Homo sapiens: one gene and its partners. The protein of the gene in region 5 purifies or fractionates together with the protein of the main gene of each other region. This does not show direct contact. Each region holds a gene or a part of one and is shown on either strand. Other genes may lie near its edges. The genes, in order: LYRM1, COQ8B, AFG1L, ADCK5, ALDH1L1, MTRES1 and PRELID3B.

Region 1 (4,575 bases), on a different chromosome or scaffold from region 5:
GGGAAGAGCTGACAACATGTAAATTCCTCACACATAAAGTATTTCGAGCAAGAGACCTTGATTCCTGGGCTATGATGCCATTCAGGATTCCTTGCAAAGGCTCTGGAATTCCAGTATTCATAAAAGAAAATGCTCATTATAATCGGAGCGTAAGAGGTACTCCCAACGTGACAGCCTGTATGAAGTATTACAAAGCTTACAGTTAAGATCTGGGATAGAGGCTGAACACCAAATTCAAAAGAGGTAACCAAGGCACTAAGTGCCATAAAGGAGGAAAGGGGAAGAAAAAAAAATCCACTATTGCCACTCAGCCACAGAGAATTAAAGTGGAAACCAGGGGTGTGCATGGGGGAGGATGAGGGGTGAGAAGTGCGGGGGGTGTGGTGGAGGAACAAACAATACATTTGTCACCCCGTCCCACTTCCTATAGAGGATACAGGCAAAGCCTCCAGCCTCATTACCTCGGACACAGATGGTTATCGTTTATAGCAAAGGTGCACAAAAAGGCCTTCAGGTCTGAGCCCCTTAATTCCAGGGCTGTTAATGATTAAAGAGAACGATGGGGGTGGGGAGGGAAATGAGGGCGGAGGGAGCTGGGAGATTCACCCACCACCTCCCCCTAGGGCTCCTACCTCACAGCGCTCACCCAGGACAGAGGACCAGAGTCTGCACCCCCTCCAGGGCAGCTCCAACCCCATATCCCCAGGCCCTGGGTTGAGGGGTGCTGGCGGTGGGGAGGCAGGGACAGTAGGTAAGTTTTCTGAGCCCTGCGGCTGACACGCCACAGGCTCCCCTCACAGCCTCTTCTTTCAGAGGTACCACTCCAGACAACGCGCTGACTTCCACTCCTCCCTTTCCACCCCCCTTTCTCGAAGGTACCCAACCCCCGCCCCTTCATCTCTCAATGCCCCCCCGCCTTTTCCTCAACTCCCCCCCTCCCCAAAACTCACAGCTGCTCCAGAGGTTCCTCCAGTCAAACCCTTTCTGGAAACGACGGCGGCCCGGCGGGTCCAAACCACCTACCATCCCCGCTCGCGTTTCCAGGCTCCCTACCCCCGCCGCCGCCGCCTCTTCTTCCACCACTGCCACCGCCTCCTCTTCATCTGCGGCCCACCGGCGGCGGCCGCCCCGAAGCCCCGCCCCCTCCATCGCCTCCTGCATCATCACTTCCGGTAACCCCGCCGGCCGCCAGCTCCAGGAGGGAGAATGGGAGAGGGGCAAGGAGGGAACGAGTGGAAGATTGCGTCACGACGCACATAAAGACGTACGAAGCCGTCGCCAAGTAAGGGCAAAGACCTAGCAACCCGGAGGGAGCTGGGCTGGACCATTTTTTTTTCTTGTTTTACGGGAATGGAGCGGGGAGGATAATGAAAGCGTAAAGGAAAAATAGGGGGAGGAGGAGCTCAGCTTATTGTTGGATGCGGCGGGAGATGGGTAGAGTCAGTCAGTCGAGACTCCCCCAGACCTGGAACTGGTGCTCCCACAGAGGTGGGCCCGGTGGTTTGGTCCGGCCTGGCCTACTGGACCAGCCTGTGCTCGGTCGGCCACGGCTCTGCTGGGCTCCTGGCGCCGCCTCCTCCCAGCCCGCCGCGGGCTGCGCGCTTCTGTGGGTGGGGGAAGGCAGGACTGACGCAGAGTGAGTGTAGGGGATGGAGGCGCCGACTCCAGGCGCGGGAGACTGGCGGGGAAGGGGTTGGCTCCCCACGGGCAGGGATGGTTTGGAGGTTGGGCTGCGGCGTTGCCGGGAGACGGGCCTGTGTGACCCCAGCTTCGCGGGGGCGGCTCGGTGTCATCGCCACCGGCCTCGGGGACCTGCCTCACGGAAGTGGCTCGCGCGTCCAAGAGGGGAGGCCTGGTGTGGGGACGCTCAGGTGCCGGCGTGGGGCCCCCTCGGAGGCTGTGAATCTTTTGGACCCCCGAATGTAAATGGGAGATGGTAGGGGCCGGTCCGGGGGCGAGAGGTGTCTGGCTGGGGAACGTTGACCCACACCAGGTCCCGTACAGGAACGGAGACTCCCTAGGACCGTGAGAGCCAGCTTCGTAATTCTCTTGCTCTTCAAACCTGAGAGTAGGGTGTTGCTCCGTTACCTTCCATTCGTGTGCAGGAGAGAGTTAAGTAAATCAATAAAGAAGGTATCAGCAAGTGAGAAATGCCCCCCAAAGACCGGATGAGGTGACAGAAGATGGGGGGAGGGCCCCTCGAAATCGGGTAAGGTCGTTCAAAGGAGGCCACGGTTTTGCGGGGATCCGAGACAATGGGTTTTCTGGGTGGAGAGAAGAGCCAATGAGAAGGACTTTTAGGTTGGAAACAGCCAGAAGGCCATGTGGCTGAAGCAAACAGAGCCAGGGCCGGAGTGCCCTGTGATGTAGTTGGGGAAGTGGCATGACTGTAGCAGCGCCTTTTAGCCCAAGGCAGGGGTTTGGCTAATGTGTACCTTAAGGGTTTTAAGAAGGGAAGTGACCTGACCTGATTTACATTTTTAAAAATCCGCTCTGCCTGCTGGATAGAGAAGGGTGGAAGTAGTTAGACCTGTTAGGAGACTGTTGCACTGTAAGACAAAGGAGAGGTGAAGATAGTGTTGAAAGGGCCGGCCGGGCGCGGTGGCTCACGCCTATAAACCCAGTACTTTGGGAGGCCTAGGCGGGCGGATCACGAGGTCAGGAGATCGAGATCATCCTGGCCAACATGGTGAAACCCCATCTCTACTAAAAATACAAAAATCAGCTGGGCGTAGTGGCACGCGCCTGTAATCTCTGCTACTCAGGAGAATCGCTTGAACCCGGGAGGTGGAGGTTGCAGTGAGCCAAGATCGCGCCACTTCACTCCAGCCTGGGCAACGGAGTGAGACTCCGTCTTAAGAAAAAAGAAAAGGCCCTCAGTCACAGTGGAAATGGAGAGAATTCCATTCAGCATATATTTGGGAGGTAGTGCTTGCAGGACTTGCTGGGGAATTGGATGTGAAGTGTGTAGGAGAGGGAGGAACCAAGGTTAACTCCCTACGGGAAAACAGTTTAGAAAGGAATATCGAAAGTTCTCTTTTGAACATATTAAGTTTGATAAGTCTATTAACAAGTCAAATGAAGTTGTCAAGAAGTTAGATATACAAGTCGGGGAAAAATCATAGTTGGAGATAATAAATAAGGAAGGCAGGGAGGAGCTCCCAGATCACCTAAGAAGAGCGTGTAAATAAAAGAGGAAGACCCCTAAATCCCTTGGGTTCTTACCATTTAGAGAGTACCCAGAGAAGGAGAAGCCAGCAAAGGAGACGACACAGACAAGACCTCAGAGATCAAAGGAAGAGGCCCCTTAATATCCTGGAATAATGGGACCCATCCCCGTAATCAGTGAATCTCATCCACCCGCTTGCCAGCTTCTACCCGCAGCAAGTAGAAGCTAAGTCCTGGCTCAAATCTCTTCCCTCCCTCCCTCTCCCAGCTGTCAGTGCTTTTGGACTTGTGCTCAGGTAATTTGTGTCCGTTATAGAAAACCTGACTTTTTGGATAAATTGTCTGTTTATATGGCTGTCTCCCCCAGGTACTGTTTCTTATTTGTGTCTTCCTGGCTCCTGGTACAGAGCCTTGTCCATATGGTGGTTGTAGCTGGGCAGGAACACTGTGTTCATAAGGTATCAGCCATACAATCCAACAGCTTCTCACAAAAAGGGGCTTTTGTCCCTGCCACTGCTGCCAAGCCCACCACAATTACGATCAGTTCCACAATATAGTGTAAAGGGTATCAGAAGATGAATAAGAAGGCCTGGGTTTCAATCCTGGATCTGCCACTGACCAGCAGAGTGGCCATGGATAAAGCTCTTCTCTCTGAGCTGAAGGGTTGGCCTAGATTTGAAGTTGCATACTGACAAGACAGATATTGCCTGCAAACATATTGTTCAGCCCACACAGTGATTTAAATTCTTTTTTAAATTTACTTGCCAACATTTAAAAATTGGACATCAAAATCCAGACTTTGGGCTTCATTTGAAAAATCCGACAATCTGACAACACCAGCCTGAAGTTCCTAGAGGTTCCTACACAGCAACTGTCAGCCAGAGCTGAAGAGCTGTCTCCCGTCTATGTGGCTCATGCTCAGGGTTTGCCAAAAAGGCCTCTCCTCTCCTGCTACCTGGCTGACCCCTGTGGGCATTTGATTTGCAATTCTTGGTCTAGGGCTGTGCTATCCCTGTGTAGCCACTGACCACATGTGACTATTTAAATAAAAATTCAGTTCCTCCAACACAGTATGTTTCAAGTGCCAGTAGCTACCTGTGACAGGTGTGTGTCCTATTGGACAGAGCAGATAGAACCTTTCCTTCACAGAAAGTTATCTTGGTCAGCATTGGACTGGAGGAACTCGAGGGTACTATGTAGGCTAGTCATTCTCCGCATGTGAAACTCAAGGGACTTAGCCTACTGAGGAGCTCTGGTGCCTCTGCAGATGGGAAAGTTGCGCATTCAGTAGTTATTTGATGGTGGAGGAAGCTGTCCTGAAGGCCTGGACCCCTGCACAGAATGTGGTTATTTATCAGAGAGTTGGATCAAGGGTCAGGTGCTAGAAAGCCCCAACTGTATCTAGTG
Region 2 (3,810 bases), on a different chromosome or scaffold from region 5:
TTTTTGTAGAAACAGGGTTTTACCATATTGCCCAGGCTGGTCTCAAACTCATGAACTCAAGTGATCCCGCCCCGACGTCCCAAAGTGCTGGGATTACAGGCATGAGCCAGCACTCCCAGCCAGGTTTCTTTTTTGCGTGGTGTAACTGTCCTAAAATTGATTCTGGTGATGCTTGCACAACTCTGTGAATATACTAATAATCATTGAATTATATAACTTAAATGGTGAATTATAACAGTATGTGAATTATTTCTCAATAAAACTGTTAGAATGAGCCTCCAAAGAGCTTATTTATGTGGATTATAGTTATCAATGTCTACCATATTAGAAATTAAAACTGAGAAATTTTTAGGCCAGGTGCGGTGGCTTACGCCTGTAATCCCAACACTTTGGGAAGCTGGGGCGGGAGGATCCCTTGAGGTCAGGAATTTGAGACCAGTCTGAGTGACATAGCGAGGCCCCATTTTTACAGAAAGTAAAAATATTAGCCAAGCATGGTGGTGCATACCTGTAGTCCCAGCTACTCAGGAGGTTAAGGCAGGAGGATCACTTGGGCCCAGGAGGTTGCAGTGAGCCATGATTGTGCCGCTGCACTCCAGCCTGGGTGATAGAGTGAGACACTGTCTCAAAAACACAACAAAAATACAGAGATATTTTTAAAACACAAGAGTACACACGTACACATTCCATCAGCTGTCAGTCTGATGGTGTCCTCACATGTCCTGGAGCCTCTGGAGAACTCCAGTGAATGTTCTTAGACGCATGAGAGCAGAAAGGGGAAAATAACATCTTAATGTTACGATAAAAATAGTTTGATCTCTCAGACCCCTCTGAATGGTCTCAGGGACCCTCAGGGGTCCCTGGCCCACATTTCGAGAATCGTTGCCCTTCTCATGTCCCCACCTGGTCACTCCCCTCACCAAGGGTGACCTCTGTCTTGGCTCCTGGACCCTGGATTTGTTTGGCCTTGTTTTGCTCTTTATATCAGTGTAACTGGGTGATGATTTCATGCACCCGGCTGCTTTCACTCAGCATTACATTTTTGAGACCCACCTGGGCTGTTGTGTGTAGTGATAGCTCATCTATTCAATACTGTAGTAGTTACTCTTTGACTCTCCTGCAATTTGTTTTAACTTATGTTTATTTTTCTTTCTTTCTTTTCTTTTTTTTTTTTTTTTCCCGAGACAGGGTATTGCTTGGTTGCCCAGGCTGGAGTGCAATGGTGCGATCACAGTTCATTGCAGCCTCAACCTCCAGGGCTCAAGCAATCCTCCTGCCTCAGCCTCCTGAGTAGCTGGGACTACAGGCACATGCCACCATACACCCAGCTAATTAGAGACAGGGTCTTGCTTTGTTATCCAGGCTGGTCTGGAACTCCTTGACTCAAGCCATCCTCCTGCATTGACCTCCCAGTGTTGGGATTATAGGCGCGAGCCAACAAGCCTGGCCTCCGTATTTCGTTTTAGCCATTCCTGTTGGTGTGCAGATGATATATATTTTTTTTAATAGAGAAAGGATGTCACTGTTGCCCAGACTGGTCTCAGACTCCTGTGTTCATCCCGCCTGGGTCTCCCAAAGTGCTGGGATTACAGGCGTGGGCCGCCGGGCCTGGCCGCAGTGATGATATTTGTGGTTATAATTCTAATGGTTGTTCTCTCCCCAGAGGGTGGTTCTGGGCTGGACTCCAGCCCCTTCCTGTCGGAGGCCAATGCCGAGCGGATTGTGCAGACCTTATGTACAGTTCGAGGGGCCGCCCTCAAGGTTGGCCAGATGCTCAGCATCCAGGGTACAGCATGACCCTCGACTCCTGACCCCTGACCTCCCTTCTACCCCAGCCCTACCCACCAACAGGCCCCAACTTCAGATACTCACACGGGGTCCCTCCTCACCTCTTCGCTTACTTCCCCCCTGGTTCCACTGTCTCCCAAGACAACAGCTTCATCAGCCCTCAGCTGCAGCACATCTTTGAGCGGGTCCGCCAGAGCGCCGACTTCATGCCCCGCTGGCAGATGCTGGTGAGTGCCCAGTGGGGGAGGGCGGTGAGGGAGGCAGGCTCCATCTCCTCTGACCTGCCTGACCTTCCTGGCTTCACTGCCCCACTCCCTGCCTCTGAGCCTCACTTTCCCCATCTGTAAAATGGGAATCACCAGAGTACACACCTCCTAGCATTGCTGTGGTGATTAAAACAGGGAACAGCAGCCTGACCTCTCTGTGCTTCAGTTCCCTTCCCTGGGAAATGGCGATAGTGACAGCCACACCCACATCATAGGGTCACATAAATCAGTTTACACTGAGCACTGAGAACGGCCCCTGATTCACTGTGAGCAACATGCAGGTGTTAGCTGTGATTATTACTGTTTTTTTAATTAAAGGAGATCGTGTCTGTAATAGGTTGGCACGGCGCCTGGCACCAAGTAAGTGCCCAGGACATGAGCTGTTCTAATAACTGGGTAAGGCATGGAATCCAGGATTCCGCCACCCACCTGCTCTCCCATCCCTGTTCTGCTTATTCGCCATGCGGCCCCAGGCAGGTACTGCCTCTCTCTGGGCCACTCTGAATAGGACCTGGCCCACAGGAAGCCCATTGTAAATTTTAGCTCTTCTTGATCACAGTAACTGTGAGTTAATAATAACATATAAGAGCATAATAAAGGATGGTTGGCCACGTGTAATGGCTCATGCCTGTAATCCCAGCACTTTGGGAGGCTGCGGTGGGAGGATCATTTGAGCTCAGGACTTCCAGACCACCCTGGGCAACATAGTGAGACCTTGTCTCTACTAAACATAATAACAGTAATAATTAGCTGGGCACAGTGGCACATATCTGTAGTCCCAGCTATTCAGGAGGCAGGAGGATGGCTTGAGCTCGGGAGGTTGATGCTGCAGTGAGCCGTGAGAGTGCCACTACACTCCAGCCTGGGCTACAGAACAAGACCCTGTCTCAAAAAAAAAAAAAAAAAAAGGATTGTTATGAGTCTTAACTATAAATAATAGCAATCCCCACAACAGCCCAGGGAGTCCAGGTTCAGGGGACACAGGCTAGGCTGAGCCTCACAGTCTGCCAGTGCCTGGCTAGTCACTTGCACAAGGGAGCTCTCTCTGAGCCTCAGTTTCCTCATCTGCAAAGGGGGTGGCAGCCAAGAGCTTAGCCCAGGGCCCTGCATGTGGTGAGTGCTGGGGTTATCAACACGTAAAGCACTCAGCCTGGGGAATGAACTCTGCCACAATGATGATGGCTGTGACCACTCCCCGCAGAGAGTTCTTGAAGAGGAGCTCGGCAGGGACTGGCAGGCCAAGGTGGCCTCCTTGGAGGAGGTGCCCTTTGCCGCTGCCTCAATTGGGCAGGTGCACCAGGGCCTGCTGAGGGACGGGACGGAGGTGGCCGTGAAGATCCAGGTGAGAGGGGAGGCTGGGCAGGGTAGGGGCGGGCACCCTGCTAGCCCAGAGAAGTGACTCCCACCTTCTCTCCCTCCCTTCTCCCTTTACAGTACCCCGGCATAGCCCAGAGCATTCAGAGCGATGTCCAGAACCTGCTGGCGGTACTCAAGATGAGCGCGGCCCTGCCCGCGGGTGAGGCGCCCACCCACTCCTCTGCTGACCTCCCAAAGGGGCTATGCCCAGAGAGAGAAAGCAGGAGGGGGAGCCCAGAGGAGAGCACGGGCAGGGTGTGCTGGCGTTGTGAGCGGGAGTGTCAGAGACAGAAAGGACACCAAGGCGGGGAGAGCCCAGGGAGCATGAGCAGGTGTGGGAAAAGCCTTATGGATTTTAACAGAGCCTTAGAGAGACGGGAGCCCAGGGCCAAGATACAGC
Region 3 (3,810 bases), on a different chromosome or scaffold from region 5:
ATATGCCCTTTTCCTTTAATGGGGTATGTCAGAACTACACACGTTTCTGCTCATATCCCATTGTTAGAACCTGCTCACATGGCCATACCTGACTGCAAGAGAGGCCAGGAGATGTAATATGTGTCTGGGCAGCCATGCATCCAGCTAAAACTTCTATTTAGAAAGGTGGAACAAATAATGGAAGACAGCCGTCCCTATCTCCAACATTCATGATATATTTAAGGACTTTTCCCCCTCTTTTGGGGAAAACATGGACCTAACATTGTGATTGTTAATTCTTTTTGCTAAAGTAATTTTTATGTTATTGTGACAAAGGAAACATGATGTTCAATGAAATGAATAAAATGCTGGCAGAGTACCTTTGGGAAATCTTGTTCTGAAAAATGTGCCAGGTTGCTGCTGTTTATTGTTGCTTCTAAACAGTAGAGAAGGAGTTAGCTGCTTATTAAACCTGCCCCACATAAGGAATGGAATTATGGTTGGACCTCGCCACAATCATTTCTCTCCCAGGAGAGGCCAAAAATAGGATCAGAACACCACCCTGCTTTGAAGCAGACACTCTTGCTGTGTCTCAATTCCATGTCCAACTCCGTAAAGGTTATGGAAAACAGAAAAAGATCTCAGAAGCAGAGGGCTGAAATCGATGTGGTAATATCTGAATGTTATGTTGTCTTTGAGTAGAGAATTAAGGAACAGTGGAAAACCCTTGGGACTAGTCTTCACGTCTTTGTCTTGGTGCTTAAGAACCAGAATTAGGGTTTACTCAAAGAAAGGCAACTCTCTTGCTTTGGGAAGGAGATGAGGAACCCCAGTGTCTCCTTCAGTGGACTGGAAGCAAAGCAGAAGCTGTAGTAGGAATAGGCCTTCTGGAAGAGAGGTTACAATTATAGTTTATGGGTTTGGGGTTTGTTTCCTTTTGTTAAAATAAAACAATTAGAAATATATTCATTGTTTAATTATTTTTTTTTTGAGACCGAGTGTCACTCTGTCACCCAGGCTGGAGTACAGTGGCACAATCTCTGCTCACTTCATCCCCTGCCTCCCAGGTTCAAGCAATTCGTGCCTCAGCCCCCCAGGTAGCTGGGATTACAAGCATGCACCACCATGCCCAGCTAATTTTTGTGTTTTTAGTAGAGATGTGGTTTCACCATTTGGCCAGGATGATCTTGAACTCCTGACCTCAAGTGATCTGCCTGCCTTGGTCTCCCAAAGTGCTGGAATTACAGGCGTGAGCCACCATGCCTGGCTGAAAATGTATTTTATATTATTTTTATCAAAATGACATTTACAAAAACTGCTCCAATAGATATACTTGTAACTAGTTAAAAGTTTGAATTTGACCCTTAAGAAATGTGTAGAGCACTGTGAAAATGTATTTAAGAAAGTCTAAAATTTTATGTTTTTGTTTATAGCCTATACGGTTCAGACATCCGAGAGCATGACCCCAACTGCCACTTCAGAGACTTATTTGAAAGCTTTGGCCGTTTGCCATGGACCTCTGGACCACTATGATTTTCTGATCAAAGCTCATGAGCTAAAGGATGATGAACATCAAAGAAGAGTCATACAGTGTTTGCAGAAATTACACGAGGACCTTAAAGGATACAATATAGAGGCAGAAGGCCTTTTTTCAAAGGTGAGGCTTGTGTGATATGAAAGATTAAACAGTTAAAAGTGTAAGCATTTTCTAAAATGGATGCAATGCAGTAGGACACAATCATGAAACATCTTGAAAAATTTTCACCAGTTCCTTTACACAAATTCTGTTGGATCCCCATTCCTGGCCTTTTGATGTTCCATAGCTTTCTTTTGCCTTCAGGGGTTTGAATAGCTTCATATTTAGGTATTTAAAAAATGCAGTCCAGTCTAAATAAAAACTTCTATGGAAATTAAAGCTTTCCCTTTCCTCTAGCTCAGGCCTCATCCAGGGATCAGCAGTGGAAAAGGAGGAGTGATGTGTTCTTTCCCTTTTCTTCCTCCTTCTTTCTCTGTTTGCCTGACATCTCTAGGGTCAGAATGAGAAGAATGAAAGATTAGAGTGAAACAGCAGCCTTAAGTGACCAGTTAGTTACTGGGGCCTTTGTATGGTAGATGCTGACGTGCTAGCTCTTTGTTGAGGGTCTTATTGGTGGGTTCTTCAAGACTCCCATGGGGACCTCCACACTTCTCCAGTCTTTGACTAACCTCTTATGACTCTGGGGAAGCAACTCACAACCCTGCATTCTGCCGACACCGCCTTGCTCTTGCCCTTAGCCTTCTTGGGTGGGGTCCTTTCAGGACTTTTTTTTTTTTTTTTTGAGACAGAGTCTCGCTCTGTCACTTGGGCTGGAGTGCAGTGGCACGATATCTTGGCTCCTGGCAACCTTTGCCTCCTGGATTCAAGCGATCGTCCTGCCTCAGCCTCCCAAGTAACTGGGTAACAAGCGTGGACCACCACACTCAGCTAATTTTTGTATTTTTAGTAGAGACGGGGTTTCACCATGTTGGCCAGGCTGGTCTTGAACTCCTGACCTCAAGTGATCCACCTGTCTCGGCCACCCAAAGTGCTGGGATTACAGGTGTGAGCCACTGTGCCTGGCCTGGGACATTTCTTATTGGGTCATCTTTTATGGTGTCCGTGCAGGCCACAGGAAACATAACATCTCCTTTCGCCACCCCTTGCTGCATGGGCAGCCTCAGTCAGCCTCCTGTCCTCAGACTTCTGCAAGCAAGAAGCAGGCACTGGTTTCTGTCTTTGTCATGCATACCCCTTTCTCCTGGGGACTTATATCAAGTTCTCCCATGAACTCTTCCACACTCTGCTCTGGCAGCTGCTTGTGCATTTCCTTACCTAGGCAAGCATCCAGCTGGGGAGAGCGATGTCCATCTCAATTTATATTCAATCCTCATCTCTTTGGATGCTTCTCTTGGGAACCCCTCGTATTTGTTACGAGATATCTGAAGGGCACACCATGGCACTCTACCCAGCTAACTTTCTACCTTGATCACTTTCTTCAGTTTCACTTTGGTTTTAGGGCTGTTTTGCCTTTTTTTTTTTTTTAAACCTAATTCCTGCATGGATGTGACTAGTGTGTATTTATTTATTTATTTATAGATGGATTTTTGCTCTATTGCCCAGGCTAGAGGGCAGTGGTGTGATCTTGGCTCACTGCAACCTCCACCTCCCAGGTTCAAGCAGTCCTCCTGCTTCAGCCTCCTGAGTAGCTGGGATTACAGGCACACACCACCACACCTAGCTAATTTTTGTGCTTTTAGTAGAGATGGGGTTTCACCATGTTTGTCAGGCTGGTCTCGAACTCCTGACCTCAGGTGATCCGCCCACCTCGGCCTCCCAAAGTGCTGGGATTACAGGCATAAGCCACTGCACCTGACCTATTTATTTATTTGAGACAGAGTGTTACTCTGTCTCCCGGGCTGAAGTGCAGTAGTGTGATATCTTGGCTCACTGTAGCCTCCGCCTCCCAGGTTCAAACGATTCTCCTGCCTCCCAAATAGCTGGGATTACAGGCACCTGCCACCATGCCTGGCTAATTTTTGTATTTTTAGTAGAGATGGGGTTTTGCCATACTGGCCGGGCTTGTCTTGAACTCCTGATCTCAAATGATCCCCCTGCTTCGGCCTCCCAAAGTGCTGGGATTACAGACATGAGCCACTGTGCCTGGCCTATTTTTTTTTGGAGATACTGTCTCATTCTGTCACCCAGGTGGGGTGCAGTAGCACAATCATAGCTCACTAGTAGCCTTGAAGTCCTGGGCCCAAGTGATTCTCCTCCCGCAGCCCCCTGAGTAGGCTAGGGCTACAGGCATGCAT
Region 4 (4,562 bases), on a different chromosome or scaffold from region 5:
TGACAGAAACCCCTGCTTGGCGAGGTCACATGCAGCAAGTGCTGATTCACAAGGAAAACCCAAGGCAGCCGGGCAGCGACTCGTAGGCGGGCCATCCACCTGCTGCCTACCCAGCCTGCACCTCCTGACCCTAGCCACCTCTGGTGCCAGTGCATGCATGGCTAGAGGCCCCGAGATCAGGCAGTCGTGCCCACGGACTGTGGAGAGACTCTGAACAGCAGCTCGTAAGTGGCTGCAAGGGAGCTACCTCCAGGTGGCTATCCCAGCCACTGCCCACCTCATCCATGACCAGCAACGCAAGCTGTTTCCACAGGCTCCACCAAACAGGTGAGGCCAGGAAAGTCATGGCTGGCTGACTGCTGTCTCCAACAACAGTTTTCTGCTCTTTCCTCAGGAACCAGCATTGCAGAAGGGGCTCCAGCTGCGTCTCTCACTCCCATTCTTATCCAGGACAGAGATCCCTCCAGTAGACCCCGGGCCACCATCACCCTACCCTGGTCCACCAGCAGCCTTGCTCATGCTCACGTCCCGCTCCACCTTGTTCACCGTGGTCCTATCCTGCCACTGTCCTCATCACACACCAGCGTGACTGTCAACTTACGGAATCTGTCCTCCCACTAGACTGTGAGCAGGGCCACCTCTCAACCATCTCTGAACAAGCAGGCACTCAATGAATGCCTGCCGAATGAGACCAACAGCTGTGAAGCACAGGACTCAATTGAACCCCACATGGCCCTGCCAAGCAACAGGCACTGATAACCCACAGTGCCTGCCAGGGCCCATGAGGCTGAGCAAGAGCCTGTCTCCTCCAAATGTGGAGCGCCCAGCACACCCAGACTATCCTCTCTGAAATTCCCATCACACAGGAGAGGTCCCCAAGGCCCAGAGAGGTTATGGGTTGGGGGGCGAGCCTGCAGCTGCATCTCCCAGAAGGACTTCCCAGAGCCCAATCCAGGGCAATTCTCACGTGACACACAGCCCCAACCGCACCCAGAACACGACCTCTAAACTGCCAGAAGATAAGCCGTCTTTTAGACGGTGGGTCCCCAGGGCCTTCCCCCAACACACCTGAGACGGCCCTGGTGACACTTATCCCTGCAGCTCCCCTGACTTCCAAAGCCTTCCAGTTTGGACAAGATGAAACGGGTGCCCCCTGTCAGAACCTCTCATGCTTTCTTATGGTGAGTGTGTGCAGTCTGTCTGCACAAACGGAAACACCTCCCGTTCCAGAGTGACTCTAGACCACAGCTGACTACCTTGAAAGCGGCAAGTATTCTGAGTGGTAACACTCACACAGGTATCATGAAGTTCACAACCAAAGGGCGTGCTTTGGCCGCAGAACCACATGCATGTCCGATCGTGTCTGGTTTTCCAGCGCCTGCAGATGAGGAGGATGCAGCTCCCACAGACAGGCCCGGCCGCAGCAGTGAGAAGCAACTGCCGAGTCTCAGAATGATGCCAGAAACTAAAAACCATGAACGGATGACCAGAGCCTGGGGAACCCAACAGCACTGTGCACCTCAACATGAGGGGAAACTGAGGCACATAATTGTCCCCAAAGTTAGGAAGAGACAGATTGGGAGTCTGGGCAGGGTAAGTGGGTCTGGCGACCACAGACACTGTCCTTCTCCCAGGGTGTGTGACCCTGTCAGCCCCAGCCAGTCCTCAAACGCCGCCTGGACCCAGCCCTGCTCACTGGCCATGAGCAGCTCCTAACCAGAGGCTAAACCGACCTGTCCACTCGCTGGGGCTGGGGAGGGACTGAGTGGCCTGCACGTGGGAAGACTTTGTCACCTGGAAGGAGCTGCACTGAAGGCCACCTCCCCGGCCCATGAAGCACCCTGGGGTCACACAGCTGGGCTGGGGCACGAGTGGGCCGTCCATCTGTGCTATTTATAGCCAGACGGGCAAGGCTAGCTTATCGCCAAACACAAGCTCTGCTGACATTCCAAGAAAAAAAGGAACGGCGCTGGGAGCCCCTTCATCTCTTCTGGAAGGGGGTGGGTAAGATGCGTGTCAAGGCCTCTGCCCCGCCCCCCCGCAGTCCTAACCGCAGGGACAGAGCAACGGGACCCGGCGGCGACGTGGGAGCGGGGAGACGCCGAGAGCCTGAGAGAGGGGGCCTCGGAGCCATGGGGGGCGCGCCCCTGAGACGACGCAGGGGCGCTCAGAGCAGAGCCCGGCCTGCAGCCCCCGCCCGCCCGCCGCCTCAGGGCAGGGCAGGCCCGGCGGGGAGGCGAGCGAAGGAGGTCCGGGGCAGCAGGCTGGGCAGGGAGGCGTCCGTGATTCCGGGAGGCCGCCTCGCGAGGGGAACGGCGCCTGAGGCTTCCCCGCGGGGCCCCTGCCCTCTGGAGATCGCGCTCTCCGGGGCGCCGGGCACCCGCCTCCGGGCTGGGCGGAGGGGCCCCTGCGGCTCCCGGTGCAGGCGGCGTCAGGGCTGCGGGCGCGGCTCCCGCCTGAAATCCCAGCTCTCGGGGAGGCTGAGGCGGGCGGATCGCTAGAGCCCAGGAATTCGAGACCAGCCTGAGCAACACGGCGAGACCCCGACTCTGCTAAACAGAGTCGGCCGGGAGCGGTCACGCCTGCGGTGTCAGCTACTTGCGGGGCCGAGGCGGGAGGATCGCCTGAGTCCGGGAGGCGGAAGCTGCGGTGAGCGGAGATCGCACCACTGCGCTCCAGGGCGACAGAGCGAGACCCTGCCTCAAAAAAAAAGAGGGAAAAAGCCCCGAGGGTCTCTAGGGCGGGGTCTGGGGACTTGCGGGTCTCGGGTCTCTGGGGCTGGTGTGCAGGATCTCGGGCGCCCCGGGCCGGGAGAGTCCTCACCGGTCGCCACATCTCCGACCACTGCTCCGCTCTTCTCCCGCCCGGCGCCGCTTAGCGTCTCGCAGCCCAGCAGGCCCTGCGGGAGGGCGCGTAGTGCGCACGCGCCGGAGCCAGAGCCCCGCCCCGTGGGCGGTGGGCGAGGCTGGAGGCCACGCCCCGAGTCGTGCCGGCCTCCGCGGCGGGGCAGCGTCCCCTGGCGGCCCCCAGAGGCTTACCTTTTGGCGCCCGGACCGCGCCTCCTGAGAGCGGAGGGTTCCAGTCCCGCCCTCGGCGCACTGCGCATTCCCCGGGCAGGCACCTGCCGGAAGGACCGCTGTGAGAAGCACGTGGATAATCCGGGGAGGGCTGAGGGCTTCCTGAGGTCCTCACGGCCCGGTATCCGCCTCTCTTTAACACTCCGTGCTATAGTGTGATTAGCGTGAATCTCTTTAACCTCAGGACTCCAACTCACCACCTGCCTGTGTGAGGGCCAAGATGACGCCCCTGACTGGGAACTGGAAGACAACCAGGAGAGTGGCCAAAGGGGTCCTGGAGCAGCTCCCGTGCCCATGGGGAGACCTTCCCAGGGCCAGGGCTTCAGATTCTGGGGTTCACTTTGCAGCCACCCTTGGTCCCTGTCACTTAGCTTCTTATGGGAACGTCAGTGACGTCACAGCCTCCTGCAGTGCCCTAGGCTGCTGCTACTCACTCTGTGACAGCCCTGGCTGGGTAGGGGCCCAGGCCCGGGCATGCCATGCAGCCAGCAAGGCTACTGCTGGACTGACGACCTCACCGCTACTAGACTGACCTCACCGCTACTAGACTGACCTCACTGCTACTAGACTGACCTCACCGCTGCTGGACTGACCTCACCGTCCCCGAACATGCCAGGGATCCTCGGGCGCCAACACGGGTCCTGGCACTTACTGCCTGCAAGCCCTCCTAGACCCCACTGTGAGCATGAAACAAAACACCATCCTTGTGGAATCCACGAGGGCTCCTGAGTCAGCTTGGCCTAAGGGTGCCACAGTAGCTGAAAGTGGGAGGTTTTCAGGCCTCAAGGCCTTTTCACAACTCTCAGAAGTGGCCCCTCCTCCTCCCACCAATGGCCCCTCCTCCTCCCACCAGTGGCCCCTCCTCCTCCCACCAGTGGCCCCTCCTCCGCCCACAAGTGGCCCCTCCTCCTCCCACCAGTGGCCCCTCCTCCTCCCACCAGTGGCCCCTCCTCCTCCCACCAGTGACCCCTCCTCCGCCCACAAGTGGCCCCTCCTCCTCCCACAAGTGGCCCCTCCTCCTCCCACATGGCTCCTCGTCCTCATCTTCTTACAGTCCTCTTGCTCCTCCCACTGGGACTGAACCCAAAGGCATCTCTTCAATGGGGTGGTCCCTGCCTAGGGAAAGCCGGTGCCTCCAGCCCTTTAGTGCCCCTTCTGTTATGGCGTGTCTCCTGTGAAGTCTCTGTCATCCCCAAGGTCAAGTTTGCTGGGCTCAATGATTCTGTGTGCCCTGCATCACTTTGCTAGCAGGACAGGGATTGGCCTCCAGTCTTCAGTCCCTCATCCCCAAAGCCCAGACTAGAACTTCACAGATGGACCTGGGGCCCCTCCCGGAGCCGGGCTTTCTGGAGTGTTCTCATTTGCTAACATCTGCCTCCCTCGGCAACCTTTCCTCTGTAATGGAACAGGTCCAGAAGAGCCATGTGGGCTGACACAGTAAGGCCTCCAGGCATCTGTGCCGTGACGTGAGCAAAGTGTGAGCTG
Region 5 (3,810 bases):
AGACTGAAGCCTGGCTGGCATTGGGTGTTGAGTGTTGGAGTTGATTCTAGGGCCAGGCTGCAGCTTCCCCACTGAGGGAGACTGGCTTTCCTTAACAAACTACACCTCTGTGCCTGGCCAGGCCTACAAGCCCCCTTTCCTAATCCTGGCCCTCTATCCTTAAGCCCTGCCCCACAGTCTGTCTCCATCAGGCCTGAGAAGGACCAGTCAGTGTTCCTAGAGGGTCTGTTCATCCAAGCTGAGGCCCCTGCATCCTGTCTGCTGAGGTTCCCAGCTCAAAGGCAGTGACCCAGACCCATGATTCTCAAAACGTGCTTTTCCTAGTACAAGAGATGCCAGTATCTCCCAGGAACTTGTCCCAGGTTAACAATTTCACCTAATTCTGACTTTTCCACCTCATTCTGAATCCGAAACTCTCAGGGTGCGCTTAGTACTCTCTGTGTTTTTTTCTTTTCTTTTACAAAATGCCAGGGGAGAGTGCAAATGCAGTTCCCCATTACCACAAATTATGAAGTCGAGTTTCCCACCTTTGGGGAAATTGCAGGGATCAGCACATCCAGAGTACAATGGAGAAGACTCGCCCTGGGAAAACCACCTTTGTGATCATGGTCTCTCCCCTGATGGGTAAGTAGAGCACTATGTGTTTTGACGGCAGCCCCAGCAATGGTGATGCCGCGCATGCCCACCTTTCAGAATATGGACCCCCAGTTCAGAACATGGAGACCTTCCCAATCATGGGTGCTGGGTCAGAGAAGCTCTGTGTGGGACCTGGGACCAGGCTGGGCTTCTCTATAGCCCTTCTCCAGGACCCTAATGCCACCCCATGATCAGGTGGGGAGGGGATCTCCAATTTATTCCAGAAAAGCCCAGCAGCCTGTTGGCACTGGAGCAGGATTCAAGGTAGACCACTTATGGCTGCCTCCCAGCTAGAGCACAGGCCCTGCAGACTTCTGCTCCCAGACTCCCACCTACTGCTTCCCTTCTACCTGGATGGGCGGGCCGCCCTCCATCAGCTTCCCTGCTCCATTGGCTCACTCACCCAGGGGGTCGGCCTTTCCATCCTTGTCTGGAACAGTGAACACACCCACCACTTCGTGGCCCTCCTTCCTCAGGTGGCAGTAAACTTCCTGGCCAAACAGGCTCTGTCCAATCACTGCAATCTTCATGGTAGCAGGAGGGTTGGAAGGACCTGGAGAAGGAATAAGGCAGCAATTAGACAGAGATCGCTGGTCTCAGAGAAGCCAGCCCTGGTTCAAGACAGGGCAGTTCATGGCACCTGGCCTGCTCTACCCCAGTCCCCTCTGTGGCTCTGTGGGTGGCAGGCCACTGAGGGGAGACTGCCACTGTAAGAGAGACCAGATGAAACATGTACACATGACCCAATGGATCCCTAATGTCAGAATATTCAATGCGACAGCAGGTGAGCTGGAAATGGATTGTAGAATTAGGGGATTTCTTTTTGAAACCTTCCAAACTGGCATGGAATGTTGGGTGTCAAGATGTTTGATATGTATTTGAGCATATTTCTGTAACTAACCAGTTCTATGGCCTTGGTCAAGTCACACTTGTTCATGAGAAAGATGCCACATCTCTCAAATGGCTTTCAGCCTACAAATTAGGCTTATTCCTCTGAGCCAGGAGTCACAAAAGGAGCAAGGGGAGTCCCCGCCGAAGGGGCTGTCCAGCTGAGCTGCAACAGAAAAGGGGCCTGCGTGGGGGCGCCTGAGGATGAAGGTGGTGGAAAGTGGAATGGGATTCCACTAAGGAAGATGTGTAGAATGAAGCCTAGCTAATCATGCACATTCTCCAAAGATTGGTCATTCATTCACCTCACGCATATCTGTAAAACCTGAACTATTATTCACTTAATACAGTTCTTTAAATTGTCCTTTTACGAAAATAAGATTTTATTTTGGAAAATTTTATTAAAGTAATGTGTACTTCATACATACAGAAAGTGCACAAATCATAGATGTGTAGCTCAATGAATTTCACAAACCAAACACACCACTGTCAACACCACCAGAAAGAGAAAAACTCCAGGAACTCTTTGAGCCTCTTCTAGTCACTACATTCACCAAGAATGATGGGACTTCTAACAGCATCGAATGGTTTCGCTTGATATATATATATATCCCCTTTATATGTATTCATTTTACATAAATGGAACCATGCAGTGTTTTGTAGATTTTCTCCCTCAACATTATCTTTGTGGTTGCATGTAGTTGTACTGAGTTTATTCTCATTGCTGCAGAGTATTTTGATATGTGGATGACCTCTAGTTCATTTATTCATTCTATTGTTAATGGAATTTGGGTAGTTACCAGTTTAAAGGTATTACAAATAGGATGCTACAAAGATACTTGCACATGGTCTTCATGGTACACATGTACACATCTCTGTCAGGTGTGTACTTAGGGTGGAATTCCTGGGTCATAGGTGTGAAAATTTCCAGCTTTAACAGACGCTGCCAGTTTTCCAGAGTGGTTGTATTAGTTTCCACTTCCATGTGCTCTCCACTTTGGCTTGTGTCTTCATTTTAGCGCTTTTCCTAACATGAAATACAGCTGTCTCATTGGGGTTTAATTTGCAATTCCCTGATGACCAATGAAGTCGAATGCCTTTTCCTGTTTCTTGGCTATTTGGATATCCTTTTGTGGGAATCATCTCTTCAAATCTTTTGTCTGTTTTTTTCCATTGGGTGGTTTTATTCTTATTGAAAAGGAGTTTTTTTGTATTGTTGCTCTGTTTTGTTTTTTAATCATCTAGACTTTGAGCTCTTTGTCAGATATGTGTATGGAAAATATCTTCCCTAATTCTGTGGCTTGCCTTTTTCATCCTCGTATAATGTCTTTTGATGAACAGATGTTCTTAAACTTAATATAGTACATTTTATCAAACATTTCCTTTATGTTTAGTGGTTCTTGTATTCTATTTAAAAAATCTTTGCCTACTCCAACTTCATGAAGATGTTCTCCTTGTCATTCAAGATCTTTATTGTTTTGCCTTTTACATTAGATGTGCAATCCCTCTGGAACTGATTTTTTCATACAATATAAGGTAGAAGTCCAGAATTTTTTTTCCATCTGCATATAAAATTAACCCAGCACTAGTTACTGAAAAGACGTTTCTTCATTGAAAAGGATCATACATGTACACATCTATCTTTGAAACTTTAGTCAGTTTGTCTATCTTTGCATTTAGTATAGCTTAAAAATGTTTTTTGTTGTAGTGGTGAAGATACATAACCTAAAGCTTTATTGTAGCTGATCTACCTAGTAGTTGTGAAGTGGTATTTCATTGTGGTTTTGATTTGTATTTTCCTATTGAATCATGATGTTAAACATCTTTTCATGTGCTTTTTGGCCATTTGTATACCTTCTTTGGAGCAATGTTTATTCGAGTTTTGACCCATTTTAAAAATTGGTTTGTCTTTTTTGTTGCTAGCATATAGAAATACAATTGATTTTGTACACTGACGTTGTATTAACTAGCACCTTAATTGCTTCACATATAAATTTTCATACTGTGTAGATTCTTTGTGGTTTTCTAAGTATAAAATCATGTTATGATGTTGGTTTTAATTCTTTCTTTCTAATCCTGAAGTCTTTCATTTCATTTACTTTCTTATAGCACTTGCCAATATATCCACTACAATATTGAATACAGATGGTGATAGTAGTTCCTGTCTCATTCCTGTGACCTTGGGAAGAAACCATTCAATATTTGACCATTGGTTAGCTTTGGGGAATTTTGGTAGATAGACTAGCATATTATGAAAGTTGTCTTATTAATATATTTCTGGCTGCC
Region 6 (3,754 bases), on a different chromosome or scaffold from region 5:
CCCAGCACTTTGGGAGCTGAGGCCAGCAGATCGCTTGAGCCCAGGAGTTGAAGACCAGCCTGGGCAACATGGCAAAACTGTCTCTACAAAAAATACAAAAAATTAGCCAGGCGTGGTGGCAGGCGCTTGTCCCAGCTACTCAGGAGGCTGAGACGGGAGGATTATCTGAGCCTAGGAGGTCAAGGCTGCAGTGAGCCATAATCATGCCAATGCACTCCAGTTTGGGTGACAGAGTGAGACCCTGTCTCAAAAAAAAAAATTCTGGCTGGGCGCAGTGACTCACACCTGTAATCCCAGCACTTTGGGAGGCCGAGTCAGGTGGATCACGAGGTCAGGAGATCGAGACCATCCTGGCTAGCACAGTGAAACCCCATCTCTACTAAAAATACAAAAAAAAATTAGCCGGGTGTGGTGGTGGGCGCCTGTAGTCCCAGCTACTTGGGAGGCTGAGGCAGGAGAATGGCATGAACCTGGGAGGCGGAGCTTGCAGTGAGCCGAGATCGTGCCACTGCACTCCAGCCTGGGCGACAGAGCGAGACTTCGTCTCAAAAAAAAAAAAAAAATTCTGTTAGAAAATATTTTTTTGTAAAAGTAAGTTACGTATATATATACATCTGGAATTAAAATACTGCTGTTACTAGCATTTATCTTTAATTGAAGCATTATGGGTTATGTTAATTTCATAGTTTTTATTTTCTGAATTTTTTTACCATGAGTATGTATCACTTTCATAATGGAAAAAACAATACTGATAATAAAAGTTAACAAAACACAATAAAAAGTTATGACAGAGACCCTTAAAAAGTGTGGAAGACACAAGACACGAGGTATTGGAAGACATAATCTAACTCAGTGTTCAGGGAACAAAGGTTCCAGAGAAGTTAGACATACTTTGGAGATTGTTTTCATTTCATCTTTCATATTTCAAAATACCCCTGGGGTTGGAGGATCCGAACTACATCCGGTTGCCCTAGGACATGGGAAATTGAGGCTGTCGGCTGTCAGCCGTGCATTTGGGTGAGCACTGAGGCTTCCTGCAGTCCTTGCTAACTGGGATCATGCAGGTTCTTGTAGCTCTGTGGGCAGAAGGAGGGAAAACTCCCCCAAGCTGTCTCAGCCCCCAAGTCCCAGGGCCCTGGTGATGCCCCTGACTTGAACCGGCAGGCTGGGACTGTGGCTGGCTGTCAGCAGCTATTGCTCAGTGAGCTACATGCAGTCATAAGCCCTTCTCATCTCTGAATAGCTTTTTCCTGCTGTAGCCTGCCCTCCTTCTAAGCTGCAGTATTCCAAAAACAAGATGTATTCTTGGAGTAAAGAATGATTACTCCCTGAACACCCTGTCTCTGTGCTGGGGCCTCATTTACAAACCCCACTAGACTATTTTTCCTCACACCCCTCCCACCCGCCCCCGTTTTGTGATGTTGTTAACTACAGCCTAATTGCTGCTGCTTCATTCTGCCTTGGGTGTTCTGTTGTCTCAGCTGCCTTCCATGTTTCTTGTGAGGGTCAGCAAAGGAAGGGGGCATTATTAACGCTCAGCTGTCTTGTTACTAGGAGGCCTGGTAGCCATAGAAACTGCAGCTAACTAGAGATTTGAAATGTAGATATTTGGAACAGCTCCTAATCCCAGCCAGTTTTGCTTTGTGTCTGCTGAGGGACAGGGGCCGTGGAGGGGAATAAAGAATGCCTCGCCTTCCCTGGTCTGCTCTGTGGAGCCTGTGCCTGGCTGCTGACCCCGAAGGGTCAGGTGCTTGTCTGATGCTGCAGCTCTAACCCTGGCTGTCTGCGATTCAGCAAAGCTTTTCTTTGAGCTGAAAACCAGGTGAAGCCCAGGGTGTGGTAGGTGTTGGGTAACTGTTGATTAAACAGTGGGTGTGTGGTGTCCAAGTATGGGGATTGAATCCTTCCTAAACTCATCTCTTCCTGGGATCAGTTGGGTAAAGGAGGAGCACCCCTTCTCTGTGCTACAAGGAAGCTCCAAAGGGATTCATTCTTGTGTGTGTGTGTGTGTGTGTGTGTGTGTGTGTGTGTGTGTGTGTGTATTTTTAGTAGAGACGGGGTTTCACTGTGTTAGCCAGGATGGTCTCGATCTCCTGACCTTGTGATCCACCTGCCTCGGCCTCCCAAAGTGCTGGGATTACAGGCGTGAGCCACCACACCCCGCCAAAGGGATTCATTCTTTAGCCACACACTAGCCTTCTCTATCCAGAGGCAGACATCATGCACAGTATCTCTATGAAAGGATATACACAGAGTATCCTTTTCTTTGTATATTTTTTTTTTCTTTTTCTTTATTTTATTTTGGAGACAGTGTCTTGCTCGGTTACCCAGGCTGGAGTGCGGTGGTGCAGCCACAGCTCATTGCAACCTTGACCTTCTGGGCTCAAGTGATCTTCCCACCTCAGCCTCCCGAGTAGCTGGTATGACAGGCACACCACCACGTCTGGTTAATTTTTTATTTTTTATAGAGACAGGGTCTCACTGTGTGGTCCAGGCTGGTCTTAAACTCCTGACCTCAAGTGATCTACCCACCTTGGCCTCCCAAAATTCTGAGATTGCAGGCATGAGACACCACACCTGGCCTATACACCTTTTCTTTGTCTACCCTTTTGTATCTTCTAAATTTTGTATCATATGCATATATTACTTATTAAAAATGAATTGTAGGCCGGGCACAGTGGCTCACACCTGTAATCCCAGCACTTTGGGAGGTCAAGGCAGGTGGAACACTTGAGGCCAGGAGTTTGAGACCAGCCTGGCCAACATGGTGAAACCCCATCTCTACTAAAAATACAGAAAGTTACCCGGGCATGGTGGCAGGCTCCTGTAATTCCAGCTATTCAGGAGGCTGAGGCAGGAGAATCGTTTGAATCCAGGAGGTGGAGCTTGCAGTGAGCCAAGATCGCGCCATTGCACTCCAGCCTGGGCAGCAGAGCGAGACTCCATCTCAAAAAAAGAAAACAAACAAAAAAAGAATTTTAGCTGAGCAAGTTGGTGTGTGTCTGTAGTCGCAGCCACTTGGGAGGCTGAGGAGGGAGTGTCGTTGAGCCCAGGAGTTTGAGGCTACAGTACACTATGATTATGCCTATGAATAGCCACTGCATTCCAGCCTGAGCAACATGTGAGACCTCATCTCTTTAAAAATAGTAATTTGAATGAAATAAGGTTATACCAAAAAGGTAAAGCAGAGTTCCCAAGCCTTGTATTTCTTTTTTTTGAGACAGCCTTGCTCTTGTTGCCCAGGCTGGAGTGCAATGGCACGATCTCGGCTCACTGCAACCTCTGCCTCCCAGGTTCAAGCGATTCTCTTGCTTCAGCCTCCAGAGTACCTGGGATTACAGGCACCTACCATCACGTTCTGATAATTTTTGTATTTTTAGTAGAGACGGGGTTTCGCCATGTTGGCCAGGCTGGTCTTGAACTCCTGACCTCGTGATCCACCCTCAGCCTCCCAAAGTGCTGGGATTACAGGTGTGAGCCACCACGCCTGGCCTGTATTTCTAGACGGATTTTTTAAAATGTCCACATAGGCTGAAGTAGTCATTTTAAAAAATTGAACCCAGGGTTGGGCGCGGTGGCTCACACTTGTAATCCCAGCACTTTGGGAGGCCAAGGCAGGTGGATCATGAGGTCAAGAGATCAAGACCATTCTGGCCAACATGATGAAACCCTGTCTCTACTAAAAATACAAAAATTAGCTGGGTGTGGTGGCACATCCCTGTAGTCCCAGCTACTTGGGAGGCTGAGGCAGGAG
Region 7 (4,436 bases), on a different chromosome or scaffold from region 5:
AATCTCAACTCCATTAATTTCCCAGAACCCTGGACAACCAGTGACATCATTTTTAATGTTTTCATTATAATATTCTTTTCTATACAATATTGTACCAATGAACCTCATTCTGTCTTTAGTCTCCAGCCTTATCCAGCAATCAATGCAGGTATATAAGCAGAGTTGCTTCATCAATCTGAAGTGTCCCGACAAATCGAAGCATACAGGCCAAGCACTGATTCTTACCAAGGCAACTCTCTAAAATGAAAATCAGATGAACCCTCCCCAGGTCTCCATCCAGTCATATGCCATGGTTAGCTGGCTTCCATGCCCTTACCTCTTCCCCCAACCCTCTCTAAAAAATTAATAATCGCATGACTTCAGGGTGGTTATGCATTATTTGTAATTTAGTCCATCTCTCCTTTCTGAACCAACTTGAAACCACTGATGTTGACTTAGCTTGGCTCAAGATTGCTTTATGAACCATAACCAGCTCAAACATTACAAACAATACTTATTATGATTAATCTTCCAGCAATTAATCTGAGCTGTATTAACATAATTACGTGGAAAAGATCTCACAATGGAAGACATTCAAAGACCACGCCAAAGTAGAATCAGGAGGACCTGGCTATGGCTCACTGACCGGTCCAACTTCTTCACCTTTGAAACGAGGTGAGGACATTATTAACTCCACTGGCGCAGCATCGAGGTCTTGATTTACTTATGAAAATGTAATCAATCCAAAGAACAGTGGCTGACACATACTGGGCATCTCTATAAGTTGAAGGAATCAATGAATGACTTCACCTGGATGCCAACTATAGGCCTCAGAAGAAAAGTGTTGGAAAATCAAAGACAGATAAGATGTAGAATGATGACTTAGACATTGTTAGAGAGTGACATCCTAAAGATCAGAAACAACGCTCAGATTTGTCAGGGGAGATGATGACTTCAATTTCAGACAGGCTGAGTTTTAAGGGCCTGTGGGACACGAGGGTAGCAATGCCTAACAGGCACCTGAAAATGAAAAGCGGAGCTCAAGAGAGGCTGGAGCTCAAGGTACAGATCTGGGTGCCATAAATGTATACCTATCATTTGGGACTTTGACCAAACAGCTCAGATTATGTGGGGAGAAAGCACGGATCAGGGCTGCTTCTCCCAGGACAAAAAAAAAGTCTGTGACGAAAAGAGAAACAAAAAAGAAATTAAGATCACAGGTAAAATCCAATATAGGAAGGCCAACACAGAATCTCACTGAACATTTACACTGAATGGGAAAAGACAGGGAAGCGCTGAAGACAAAGGCAGAAAGAGTGTAGAGGGAAGGAGGGGATGAGCCAGGAAGAAGAGTTAGGGAAGATATGGGAGAAGACAGTTCTAGGGAGACTGAGTGCCGAGAACCTCTGAAGCATGCAAACCCAGAAGAGGACTGAAGCATGCAAACCTGGAAGAGGACTGAAATTAAACATCCTCGGAGCTGAAATGGACTAGTGATGAATGCGACCAGGTTAATGAACATCTAAATGACCACAAATTTCGGGTCTTTTTCCTCCCAAAAAGACTAAACAGTAGGGGGAAAAGAAAGCTTCCTTCTGATTCCAGTATTCTATACTTTGCAGGATACAGCAGGCCCTAGGATGTGTCCCACTGAGTACAAATGCGGACAACGTTTTAAAAGTTGCCTTCAGAGGCCGGGCACAGTGGCCCACACCTGTAATCCCGGCACTTTGGGAGGCCAAGGCGGGCGAATCACCTGAGGTCAGGTGCGACCTGACCAGGGCGAATCACTTTGAGACCAACCTGACCAACATGGTGAAACTCCGTCTCTACTAAAAATACAAAAATTAGCCGGGCGCGGTGGTGGGCGCCTGTAATCCCAGCTACTTGGGAGGCCAAGGCAGGAGAATCGTTTGAACACGGGAGACGGAGGTTGCAGTGAGCCAAGAACACGCCACTACTCTCCAGCCTGGGCAACAGAGCGAGACTCTGCCTCAAAAAAGAAATTTAAAAAAAATTTGCCTTCAGAGACAGTTTTAAAAACATAAATGGCTTTGTAGCATATTTATTTACAAGGCTATACTAATTAAAACAGTGTGGCAACGACATTAAGATCAGCGGAACAGAGCAGGTAACTCGGGAAAAAAAAGGATTTCGCTGCTTAAATTTGTGGCTCTTTTGTAAATGGAATCAGGGACCTAGAAGAGAATATAATTCTCCACATCCAACTGGTTCAAGGCTTAGTTTCGTTAGTAAACAGTTCACATTATCCAAAAAGATGTTCCTGAACGTGGCCTCAAAGAGCTAACACGGGTAGGCCCTGACGATCGTCCTTTTCCATCTCTCAGATGAAAATGGGTAACCCAGGGTCACACGCTTGTTACAGCCAGAGCTAGACCTTGAATTCCAAATCCAAGGCTCTGCTGCGTAGATGAACGAGTTGTGAAAAGGCTTCACATCCTGGTGGTCAGAGTTCACCCGAAATTCACATTCGAAGGTAGAAACTCCACCCAAACGGCGGCCAGGGAAAGTACACTCTGGAGAAAACCAACACCTCCCTCTTGGGATCCTCGGGTCCACGTCCCAAAGTGGTTTCACAGGGCGGGATGGGGCAACCCTGAGTGCTGTCAAGGGCTTCGTGCTCCGCGACGCCCCCAGGACCTCAGGAGGCCGCCGGCCCGAGGCTACCTCATGGTGGGGGACAGCCCGGAAGTGACCCCGTAGCCCTGCCGGTCGCAAGGCCGCCTGGGTCTGGAGGTCGGAGCCGTCCCCTCGGCTAGGGCGCCTCGGGGTCGTGACCTTGGTCTGCCCTCCGTGTCGCCGGGGCCCGCAGGCTTCAGAGTTCGCTCCCCTCGCTAGGCCCGACGCCTAGAAGCCTCCTGCGGGCCGCCTCTGCCTCGCCTCTACTCCAGGGCCGGCGTGCCTGCCCTCCACGGAGCCGACCCGCGCCCCAAACTTACTCAAAGACGTGCTCCGAAGTCCAGATCTTCATGGTGCCGGCACCCTGAGAGATGTCCGGGTAGCGCCAGGGGACAACGAGGCACAGAGGCTACACCTGCCCCTGCCCCGCCCCCAGCACCCCAGCCGGCGGCGCAGTGCGCAGGCGCTGTCGGGCCCGACGCGAGGGACGTCCAGACGCGCGGCCCCACGCCCTATCCCGGCCCGGGTTTTGCCCCAGCCTTGCGCGCGGCGCAAGGAAACCCCGCCTCTTAGCGCCGGGCGCATCGCGCCGGCGCAGTGCCGCCGACGGCAGCTGGAGGGGCCGGCGCGGGCGCTGTGCTGCGCAGGCGCGGCGGGCTTGTAGCGAGCCTTGACCTCTGGGCAGAGTTGGGTCAGGTCCAGGAGGTGCCTGCGCGCCCGCTTGGCCCTCCTTGTCCTTCTGGCCCAGCACATCCTCGCCTGGCATTTCGAGGCGTGTGGACGCATGCGGTCAGCCTGCTGACATAGATGTTCGTTGTGGTGGTCACTTGTGCAAAATTTCCTGGTGCCCTATAGAGAGTTCCAGCCACCTCCTGGGTCAGCCCGGGCTGTTTTCCCAAATCCACCAGCCACCCAGCCGATCAGCTGGGCCAGTCCCACCTGCCCGCCAGGAGCTTGCAGCCCTCGGAGGGGATAAATAAGGCGTGACGCGGAGAAGCTAACATCAGACCTGCCCATGAATAATACCCCTACGAGGGATGCGGTCCGGAAGCACGGTGCCAGGGGTCGGGTAGAAAAGCTTCCTGGCCGGGCACACCTTGCCCTAGGTGCATAGGATGGATCTGAGCTGAGATGTCTCTCCCAGAGAGACTTCCCTCGTCACCGTTTCTCACCTTGTTGCTCTGCTCCGTCACAATATCCTGTTGCATTTTTTATAGCACTTACCCCTCTGACATCATCTTGTTAATTTATTTGTGAAAATTCACAATCGAACTGAGTTCTTGAAGGCAAGAATCTTGCCGGTCTTGCTCAAAAATCATCCTCAGTGTCTCCCATATAGTCAAGGCTCAATGACTACTTATTGAAAAATGAAAAAAATCAATAGCTATTTGTGGGATGAATGAATTAATGGAGTCATCTAGTTTATTTGTTGTAACTTCCGCTAGACTGTAAGCCCCTGAGGGCGAGGCTCTTGCCAGACTTGTTCAGTGATTTCCCCCTTCCTAAATGACAATTATTTGTTGCATCAATGGATGAAAGAATGACTAAGAATTGCTGGGGCAGGAGGAGGTGGCATGTGGTTTCATTCAGAGATGAGCCTTGTCCAGGGAACAGACTGCCTGGCTTAGCTTTCAGAATATGGCTTCCCACCCTGCTCTCCTGCACTCTCCACAGCCGTCTACCTCCTAACAGAACAATTTGCCATTTTCAATGAAGGTTATGGAGGAAAATCTTTACATCTAGTTACTTAGAAGCTTGTTAGAAGGACCACCTCATTCTTGTTCTTAGCTTGTTTGATTGTTAAAGACAAAAAGCCA

The links.
Region 1: the proteins of ALDH1L1 (region 5) and LYRM1 purify together in Homo sapiens (co-immunoprecipitation; one large-scale study listed by IntAct). This does not show direct contact.
Region 2: the proteins of ALDH1L1 (region 5) and COQ8B purify together in Homo sapiens (co-immunoprecipitation; one large-scale study listed by IntAct). This does not show direct contact.
Region 3: the proteins of ALDH1L1 (region 5) and AFG1L purify together in Homo sapiens (co-immunoprecipitation; one large-scale study listed by IntAct). This does not show direct contact.
Region 4: the proteins of ALDH1L1 (region 5) and ADCK5 purify together in Homo sapiens (co-immunoprecipitation; one large-scale study listed by IntAct). This does not show direct contact.
Region 6: the proteins of ALDH1L1 (region 5) and MTRES1 purify together in Homo sapiens (co-immunoprecipitation; one large-scale study listed by IntAct). This does not show direct contact.
Region 7: the proteins of ALDH1L1 (region 5) and PRELID3B purify together in Homo sapiens (co-immunoprecipitation; one large-scale study listed by IntAct). This does not show direct contact.

The regions. Positions count from the first base shown.
Region 1 is NC_000016.10:20,899,254-20,903,828, forward strand, and holds the start of LYRM1 (LYR motif-containing protein 1), read left to right. Parts: upstream 1-1,517; 5' UTR 1,518-1,636; intron 1,637-1,788; exon of another isoform or gene 1,789-2,209; intron 2,210-3,232; exon of another isoform or gene 3,233-3,464; intron 3,465-4,575. UniProt on the Homo sapiens protein: May promote cell proliferation and inhibition of apoptosis of preadipocytes.
Region 2 is NC_000019.10:40,703,301-40,707,110, reverse strand, and holds part of COQ8B (atypical kinase COQ8B, mitochondrial), read left to right. Parts: intron 1-1,663; coding exon 1,664-1,786; intron 1,787-1,929; coding exon 1,930-2,015; intron 2,016-3,255; coding exon 3,256-3,396; intron 3,397-3,488; coding exon 3,489-3,570; intron 3,571-3,810.
Region 3 is NC_000006.12:108,322,413-108,326,222, forward strand, and holds part of AFG1L (AFG1-like ATPase), read left to right. Parts: intron 1-1,412; coding exon 1,413-1,636; intron 1,637-3,810. UniProt on the Homo sapiens protein: Putative mitochondrial ATPase. Plays a role in mitochondrial morphology and mitochondrial protein metabolism.
Region 4 is NC_000008.11:144,372,369-144,376,930, reverse strand, and holds the start of ADCK5 (uncharacterized aarF domain-containing protein kinase 5), read right to left. Parts: upstream 2,885-4,562; 5' UTR 2,836-2,884; coding exon 2,824-2,835; intron 2,106-2,823; exon of another isoform or gene 1,528-2,105; coding exon of another isoform or gene 1,294-1,527; intron 1-1,293. UniProt on the Homo sapiens protein: The function of this protein is not yet clear. It is not known if it has protein kinase activity and what type of substrate it would phosphorylate (Ser, Thr or Tyr).
Region 5 is NC_000003.12:126,159,814-126,163,623, forward strand, and holds part of ALDH1L1 (cytosolic 10-formyltetrahydrofolate dehydrogenase), read right to left. Parts: intron 1,190-3,810; coding exon of another isoform or gene 1,167-1,189; coding exon 1,040-1,166; intron 625-1,039; exon of another isoform or gene 472-624; intron 363-471; exon of another isoform or gene 270-362; intron 1-269. UniProt on the Homo sapiens protein: Cytosolic 10-formyltetrahydrofolate dehydrogenase that catalyzes the NADP(+)-dependent conversion of 10-formyltetrahydrofolate to tetrahydrofolate and carbon dioxide.
Region 6 is NC_000006.12:107,044,937-107,048,690, forward strand, and holds part of MTRES1 (mitochondrial transcription rescue factor 1), read left to right. Parts: intron 1-3,754. UniProt on the Homo sapiens protein: Mitochondrial RNA-binding protein involved in mitochondrial transcription regulation. Functions as a protective factor to maintain proper mitochondrial RNA level during stress.
Region 7 is NC_000020.11:59,039,760-59,044,195, forward strand, and holds the start of PRELID3B (PRELI domain containing protein 3B), read right to left. Parts: upstream 3,028-4,436; 5' UTR 2,972-3,027; coding exon 2,940-2,971; intron 1-2,939.